Linked DNA regions of Homo sapiens: region 1 is linked to region 2. Evidence: fine-mapped expression QTL. A gene starts in region 2. The other region holds a variant in brackets. All regions are shown on one strand. Distances are from middle to middle. Region 1 overlaps NTNG1 (netrin G1). Region 2 holds the start of NTNG1 (netrin G1).

Region 1 (4,000 bases), 58 kb after region 2:
TATCCCATGGAAGTTGAGGAAAGTAGATCGTGGGAAGTAGTGGGATGGACTCGGAGTCCTTGGGTCCTGTCTTCTGTTTAATTCTGCTCTTTGATAGATGTGTGCCTTTGAAAAAATAACACAACCTTTCTCTGCTTCAACTTCCTGTGAGGAGTACAGTAAATGATGACAACATAACACCCAGGCAAGAACTGTTTGTCAAAGGGAAACTAGTTTCTCTATGGAAAAACTGTTATGAGTTTTATTAATAAACTAAGTATGTTGGGTAGAAAAGAAGAGTTCTACCTGCCAATATCAATATGCATTTTAAATTTTAGATAAAATAAAGATAAAAATATTTTATTCTAATTATGGATGATCTGTGTCTTTCAGGACTGTATGTGCATTCTCCCAAATATCAGCTCTAATGTCATATTTTTCTATAATAGTGTCAGACTAAGAGCCTATGAAAACCTTGTCATTCTCGGGCGGGTGTGTGTGTGTGCGCACGTGCATGCATGTTGGGGTTAGGGTTACCAAATAAAATACAGGACAACCAGTTAAGTTTGAATTCATTGTAAACAATGAATATGGTTGTTATACAAGTTTTAGCGTATAAAAGTTTAGTGTAAAACTATTTATTGTTTATGTGAAACATTTTAACTGAGCATGCAGTACTTTTAGTTGCTTAATCTGACCAACCTACAGGGGGCGCTGTATATGTCTGTATGATACCCTTAGGCTTGTGACACAGGAAATGCGGTCTGATTAGTTCTGCAGCCTTAGTTACAAGGGTCAGCTGTGCTGAAACTAGGTAGGTCTCTGCTGGCTTACTGCCACTCCCAAATGCTGCCCTCTACAACAGCCAATTACAGTGTCACCGAGCCTTCTCATTAGACACAATCTAATGAGAAATGGCAAACGTCAATACTTTGGAATTTTGTTCTTTAGAAACTGTGTGGCAGATGAAGCAATTTTTCAACATTTAGTTTCATAATGAAATGATATCTTTGAAGTTCTGCATATTATATAAGAATGGGTTGACAATATTTAGACCCATTGAGTGTTAGATATGGAAGGGTCTTCAGATGCCACCTTGGCTACTCTTTTTATGCTGATAAGGCGACACTCAGAGAGTTCAACAGATTTGTGCAGGACTACATTCTGGCTTGGATGAGATTTTGGCCCTCTGTCTTCAGGCTCCACTGGTTTTCCCTACAGTGTTTCCCCTATGGTGCTCCCTATCTAATCCCTGCCATGACATTAGAATACACATTCACGTAGTGACAGAGTAGGATCCATTTTTCTTTCTCTGTGTGGCACCTTGCCCAGGATCATTTGGATGTATGGATATAATTGATAATCTGGTGCACCATGGTGTGTAAACATTGCCATCCACCTGGCCACTGTTATTTTAAATCATAAGCTCATCTCTATTCACATAATTTTCTATGCATTAAATTGGGTCACTTAATGTGATTATACAAAAATAATGATCCTATTCCCAGGCCCTTATGATAATGCACATTTTTTTCCTATTCTTTGAGGTGCAATGTCAAAGGTAGATTCTAGTGTAACTTTCATCACTACAGCTTATTTAGATATTCTGCATTTTCAATATTTCAGTAAAATTTAAAATGTTCTTGCTTCAGAACAAATTCTAAATAATGTGACACCAACGGGACAATTGGAAATTTAAACAGTGACTTTAACGGTGTTGGAAAAGAATGATGTTTCATTCTTTAGGTGTGATAATGGTGTTGTAGTTACATTTAGAGACACATACTGATATACTTATGGATGTGCTCTTGGCTTGACTTCAAAATTATATTGTGGAAGGAGACAGGATTAAGTAGGGAATGGATCAAACAAGATTACTATTGAGATAATTACTGAAGGTGGATAGTGAGTACATGACAGTTTCATTATACTATGCTGTCTACTTTTGTATATGCTTGAAATTTTCCAGAACAGTAAAAACTGTATCCTT[A/G]TCTCCAAACTCTAGTCTGCTTATACAAAGACAAAATAAAATTACATCACAGGAAATCAAAGATTTTAATGCCCATCTTTAGTGGGGAGAAATAATATTTGTCCAAAAGTTCAGTACTTGTGTGTCTGCTTCTTTTGTTCCCCTTCGTATTTTTGTGTTTTGGGGAGAGTAAACATGTAAGAGAAAGAACTTAGAACTGGGGACTCAGGGAGTCTAGATTCTAGCAAGTTTCTGCCTTTTGTTAGTTGTGTGACCTCAGGCAAGATACTTAATCTCTTTGGGTCTCAGTTTTCTCATTATGTAAAATGAGAACATTGCACTGTGTGGTTTCATAGGGCGTTTGGCTCTAAAATTGTTTGACTTGATATCACACGCAGGCTTTCCAAATCCCCTGCAAACTTGGCTCATGGAGTGTTTAGTCCTGTATTCTGTCTCTATTAATGGAGCAACGGGCTATATTCTGGGGACAACTGATTTTGACTTAAAGATATTAGGAATGAGACACCGAAATATTTTATGCTTCCCATGAATCTCCTGTGCAGCAATTTATTATTTAGTTTCTTCTGAAATTGCTATTTTTTTTTTGAAATTTTCTAGTCAACAATGAGTTACAGAAATTATTTCTCACTTTGAAAAGTTGAAATTTCTTGATATAGTGCTAAAATAAACTCAAGATTTTAAAAGTGCACCCTTCTTTTAGTAGGCCAAGGTCTTCTTAATAATACCATATATTCTATATATCATTTTATGATTTTATTACCTTCAGTTATCTCCCCAGTTTTCTTAATTCTTTTATGTATTCTCATGTAGCCAGATCTCTTCACCAATTTTATTACTTCTTTTTTTTTTCTATTCCTAATTCTGGAATTTGGCACACATTACATATGTTGTATTTAGGCCATAAAAAAAATGCTATAGTGAGACTTCTGAATATGTGAAGCACAACCTTAGCTCACTGTAGATCTATATCTTTGTAACTTCTACACGAGTATTAAATTGTATTGCAGTCCTATAATCATTGCAAAACATTTGCTTATTAAAAATATGTACTGGATACTACTTTATAGTAATACTAAGTATTATCTCAATGTCACATCAAAATTCATCCATTCAACAAATGTTTAATGAATGTCTTCTAGATGTGTTAATTCTGAAAAGCGATTTCACAGGAAAGAAGGCTTAGAAGAAATTACCAGAGGACACAGATTTCCAATTTTAAACTGATTTATTCATCAGAAAATGTTACTAAGTGACACTTACTTATTCATACACACAGTCCTCCTCTCGCGTAGATACTTCAAAATTACCATAATTAATTCAGAGACCCAACTCTGGTCCTCTTAAAGTAAAGTGACTATTTCAGTGGAAGCTATAATGGAATATCCCTAAGAAATCCATTGTCATCCTTAAAAAATACAAATCCTCTTGGCTTACTCAATGTCTTTGTGATAATCCTTTTTATCAATCAGTAACCTTCTGGACCAGGATTTGTTTGTTTAGTTTCTATGAAGCAGTGATGCTTTTATCTAGAATCTTTCAGCACCAGTTTTTGATCTTCATGGAATCATGGGGTTTTCTCTCAATTTGTTAGAAGTACTAGACATGACAAGTACTATGATTTGTTCCTTCTTTAGCCAGATATGTACTCTAGTGACAATGCCAGATTCTTGGATACTGCTTTTGTAACCATTCCTTTCTTTCACCATAATCTCTGACTGATACATTAGGGTGGGCTCTGTGGTTAGCTACTAATATTAACATTCATTCATTTAGTCATTCATAAACATTCTTTTGGTCATTCACTCTTTGTTAGGTAAGTACAAGAGTGGCAAAGATAATCCTGGCACCCTCCATTTCAAAATAACATGTTTCTTGTTATATAACATTTCTTGTTAATAACAAAATAACATATTAGTGATACTTGGTAGCATATCAACTAATCATATGGTCTGTGGTTGAACTTAAACAGTCTGTGTTCTCTTGATCACAGTGTCTTGAGTTTCTTTTTGAGTCTTTCATAATGTTTTCATG
Region 2 (4,532 bases):
GAGGAAGGGAGGTCAGTTCCAAGATTTTGACAGATGAAAACAAGTATTTTTCCAGGTTGGGAGCCAAAATCACAAAGATCTTGGTATATTCCAGAAGAGAGTTCTCTAATCTCTGCATAGATTTATTTTATTTTTACTACAGAAGGGCCTTAAATGACCAGATAAAGCAGAGGATGAGAGTTCAGAAAGGCTTTCTTGGCTTGAGAGAGAAGGGCAAGAGAGAGGAAAGGCTGAGAACTGTCTGTATTTCAGGATCTAGGCCAAGGGGCCAACGAGAAATAAGAAGGCCACTCTTGGTATTGTTTATTATATCCTATTGCAAAGGGCTCCCATAGAAAGAACTGGGATCTAAGGGCCTGTGAAGGAGGATTAGGTGGTGAGTAACATCTCCATATAGTCAGTATGTTTTAAACCTGGAGGAGCATGGCTAGAGACAGGGGGAAGAGCCAGACTTGGCCACTGTCTAAGAACCCTTGGTAGGAGTTTCAGCCCTGCAGGTAACTCTTTTTTGCAATGTCAGCACTACAGGACAAAGGTGGGAAAGAGGAAAGCACATGAATCCCAGATTCCTGCACTCAGAGATTCCGAAGGCGACTTATTGTGGCCTCTTAGGTGTTAGAGGGAAGGCTGGGGGTGCCTGAAATCCCTGCCCACTTCCTGGCTGCCCAGGGCCAAGGAGGGCCTGGTTATAGGCCCAACTCAACAAACTTCTCCCCCATCCATCCTTTTACCACACCACCCCCAGTCATCACAGAAAAATGACCCAATTACTCAGCCTCCTGCCTTAATTGTGGGACACATAGTGACTAAGTGTTCACAATTGCCCATTTCTTCCACCCCCCCCCCACCCGCCACTTTGCCTTGACCAAACATGAGTCAGGCTTCTCTCCAGCAGGTCCCTGGAATTTAGCTTGCCCCCCAAATCTGAGCAAGAACTAAAATGTGAAACATTCACCATTGTTAGCTTATCTTCCAAATTCTTGGACCACAGAGACACATTTCTTGTTCAACCAAGAGGGTCTTGAAGTGAGTTGTTTCCCCCATCCACTTGGCTTTGCCTATTGCTTGCTCCCCCTTATATATATAGAAAAAAAAGGCCGATTTCTGTTTGGTTTTGAGAGGTTTGCAGATTTCTGAGATCAGAGCGTTTTCCCTGTTGCAATAGTCTTTCTTTCTAATGGAAGTCTCCCTATCTTATCTAAATTCGGATTTGTTTCTGTTTGACGTTAATGTGTAGCTAAGAGTGATCCCAGGTGAGTCTGAGCCCGCCTTGGTGGGGAATGAAGCCTGGAGCATCGGAGCATTTGTCTTTCTCTTAGAAAAGGCAAGGAAGCCTGAAATGCGCAGCTCTCCCTTGAACTTCAACTTTTTAAAGGGGAATGAATTTCTAAAGGAGGAGTTTCCAGTCTAGGGCTGTAGGGGCCTCCGGGCAAAGGAAGTGCTTGTTGAAAAACAACATTGTGATCACTTCCAGCGGCGAAGGGTGTGCTTGGGAACGGTTTGGGGAGGGGACAGAAGAGAGAGGGGTGGGATGGACGGCGGCAGAAGTGGGAGGTACACGAGGAGTTACTGGAAACGGCGCTTCTGTGGAGGAGCCGGGGGGGATGGGGAGTAGAGGGAGGGGGCCCTGTTGCCTCAGCGCCCCGAGGTCGTGGAGCGGCAGCAGCTGCAGCCGGAGCAGCACCAGCAACAGCAACAGCGAGCGGGACGGAGTTAGGACCGCTCGGAGCGCACAGGTCTCGAGGTAGTATAAGGTTTGCTATCCTTCCACTTGCTGGCAGTTGCAGAAGAAGATCTGCTTTTTAAGTGAAACGTACATGCCACCCCTCCGAGGGCTGCGGCTTCCCCGGGCTTGCTTCTTTGCCGCTCCTCTTTCCGGCTCTCGCGCTCACTCTTTAATTGGCACTGGCCCCTAAGTTTGCCAGGAGCTCGCTGCCCGCTCGGAGCAGGGTCCCGGCCGGGAGCCGCTGGTGGGGGCGGGGAGTCCGGGAGCCGCAATCCAGAAGCGTCGTGGGCCATGTATATTTCATCAAACGGACTTTGGGTGCGTCGCGTCTCACTGCCATCAGTGCTATGTGCAGTGACATTTCTGACTTGAGTGGAGGAATGCGCGAAGGAAACCCGGGCGAAATTGGTATTAGAGGATCTTCTTGGCGCCAATGCTAATTGTCCTGATTTATGCCCCTTCTGACTAAGCTCAACGTCTTCATCTGAAATAAAATGAAAGCGGTGCCAAGCGGCATAGAACCGCCTGGCCGCTGGTTCTGATCCCCGGGAACCAGAAAATCGTCCTGCGGCTTGAAAAAAAAAAAAAGAGGAAAAAAAAAAGAAATAGAAATAGAAAAAAGAAAAAATATCCCTCAGTAAAAGTTTAAGGCGAGAAGTGTCAGAGGCAGCGGAGCGAGGAGGCGCGGAGGAGAGCCGGCGAGCAGGGGACTGGGCTGGCACGACCTCCGAAGGCTGAGATCTCATTATTAATATCACTATATTTTTGGAGGGAGAGGCACCTTTCTCATCCTCTCTTCCTCTCCGCCCACCCTTACTCCCTCCCCCTCATCTACCTGTCAAAGTCACTGATCTTTTGCATTTCGGAAGAGGACGTCAACGGGAAGGAATTCCCCCTCTGGGTGCGGGCTCCGAGAGGGGGCGACTTGCAGGAGGCTCCCCCCGGGGGCGGAGGCGAAGGTAATTAAGCGGCGGGGAGTGGCGGGCCGGCGCTGGGTTCTCGGTCCTCGGGGTCCTCTCCCGCCGGCGGCCGGGCGCGATCGGAATCCCCGGGCTGCGGCGGTGGCGGCGGCTCGGGTCCTCACGCCCACCCCTCCCGCTCCGCCCGCTCCCGCCTGGGGAGGAGGCTCCGCGGGAGCTGCCGCCCTCCGCCCGTACGCCGCCCGCGGGCTCCGCTGCTGCGGCCGCCGCCCGAGGCGGACCAGGCTGGCTGCGCAGGGCCGCCGCCCCGCGCCGTCGGCTCGGCTCCCGCCCGGCGCAAGGGCAAACGAGCCACACGGTAAGTGCCTGCGGCTCGCCTCTCCTACTGCGACCCGAGCCTCTCGCCCGTGCCCCTCTCCCCCGGGTTTCCCCACCCCCCGCCGCCCCCCGCCCCACCCGCTGCGATGCACAGGCGGGAGGGAAGGCTCCGGGTGGGCGAGGAACTTTGTAAAGCGCCCCGAGGAGGCAGCGCGCGGAGCCCTACGCGCACACACAGCGGCACACGCTCACACCCACACACAAGTCTTCCCGGGGGTGCGCCCCGGGCCGGTGATGCGTCCTCTTGTTGTGTCCGGAGCCCAGGCGTGGGGTCTGAGCCTCCATCCGCCGACTGACAGGGGCCCCGCGCTCTCCCTCTCTCACGCACACCTGGCCACACACATCGCTCAGGCGGCTTGTCGTTATTTTTTCTTTCTTTCGCCAATTATATTTGTTTGGGGAAAAGCAAACAAAAAAAACAAAAAAACACTTGCCCTATTGCCGGCCTTGGGGATCTGGTGGCCACATCGAGAGCTTTTGAAGTCCCTTCTTTTAATCGCCTTTATTGGTGCTAGATTAAAACATTACTATCCCATGTTGTGCAGCTGGGGAGAAAGGGAAATTGAAAGAGGAAGACTTGGTGTAGGGATGCTGTTTGGAATATTCTCTCATATTCTTTACTGGCATCATATTAATCGGTTGATGGATTCGGCTAGGGACACTGAATTGCACTCCTGTATGGATCTGTGGATATCTATATATAATACAAATAATACTGAATATTATTGGGCCTAAAATAACCAATTAAGTGATTCATACAAGGAAAAACTTAGATATAAAAAGAAACTGCGCCCTCTGCTGTTAATTTTAGTACCCTCACCCGGGGACTTTTTTTTTTTTTCCTTCAGAAATCCACTTAAGAGTAGGCTGTCATCTTACAGGGCAAGGGAAGAAAATTCCTAGCGGGGATTTTAAAGCAACTTTACTTGGAAAAGTCGCAGGTTGAGCTCCTATAGTTGCATCAGGTACAGATTTCCAGTGAGTAGACGGTCCTCCTCTCTCACCCATTCTTCTCTTTATACAGGGAATAATGGAGCCACTCCTCATAACAAATTGTCAATCTTTGGAATGGAAAATTCTGAGTAAGATTCAGAACTCCACTAAACATATGGTGAATCTGGCAGTAGAATTGCTCTAGAAATAAGGCCCTGTTTTATGACTGAAAATACTAAAAGTTGTTTTATCTTACAGAAATGAAAAAAAAAAAAACCCAGGAAGATCTTCCATTAAAATCACTTATTCAGATATGCTTAGTAGTTAAGCTTGTTGGAAAGTTTTCCAAAAAATAATTTTTTTTTTTTTCAGGGGAGGCTTTTCTGTTTTGTTTGTCCCTTGAGGAGGATCTCTAGTGAGGGAATTAGCAATTCCACATTTCATTAAGTATTTTGAACTGTGTCACTTTGAATGCCTTACCCGCCTCCCTTTCTCTTTGGCAAAGGAAAAGCAGCTCAGTAACTGTCCAAGATTCTTTTTGAAGATAAGCAACTTTCGATTTTTCATTAAGATAA

The links. PIP is the estimated chance that this variant, and not a neighbour inherited with it, causes the effect. A credible set is the group of variants that fine-mapping cannot tell apart.
Region 1: its variant is the best candidate, but not a certain one, in a credible set for the expression of NTNG1 in esophagus muscle (GTEx, PIP 0.71).

The regions. Positions count from the first base shown.
Region 1 is chr1:107,196,471-107,200,470 of GRCh38, forward strand. The region is part of intron 2 of NTNG1 (netrin G1); the gene reads left to right. Among named protein-coding and RNA genes, the nearest start is that of NTNG1, 57 kb to the left of the region's middle. RefSeq lists a silencer at 681-730. The variant A/G (reference allele first, on the strand shown) is at 1,970.
Region 2 is chr1:107,138,456-107,142,987 of GRCh38, forward strand. NTNG1 (netrin G1) reads left to right here and starts at 2,584. Exons shown (of 8, transcript NM_001113226.3): 1 at 2,584-2,685. RefSeq lists an enhancer at 2,224-2,755 and silencers at 2,689-2,978, 2,999-3,278.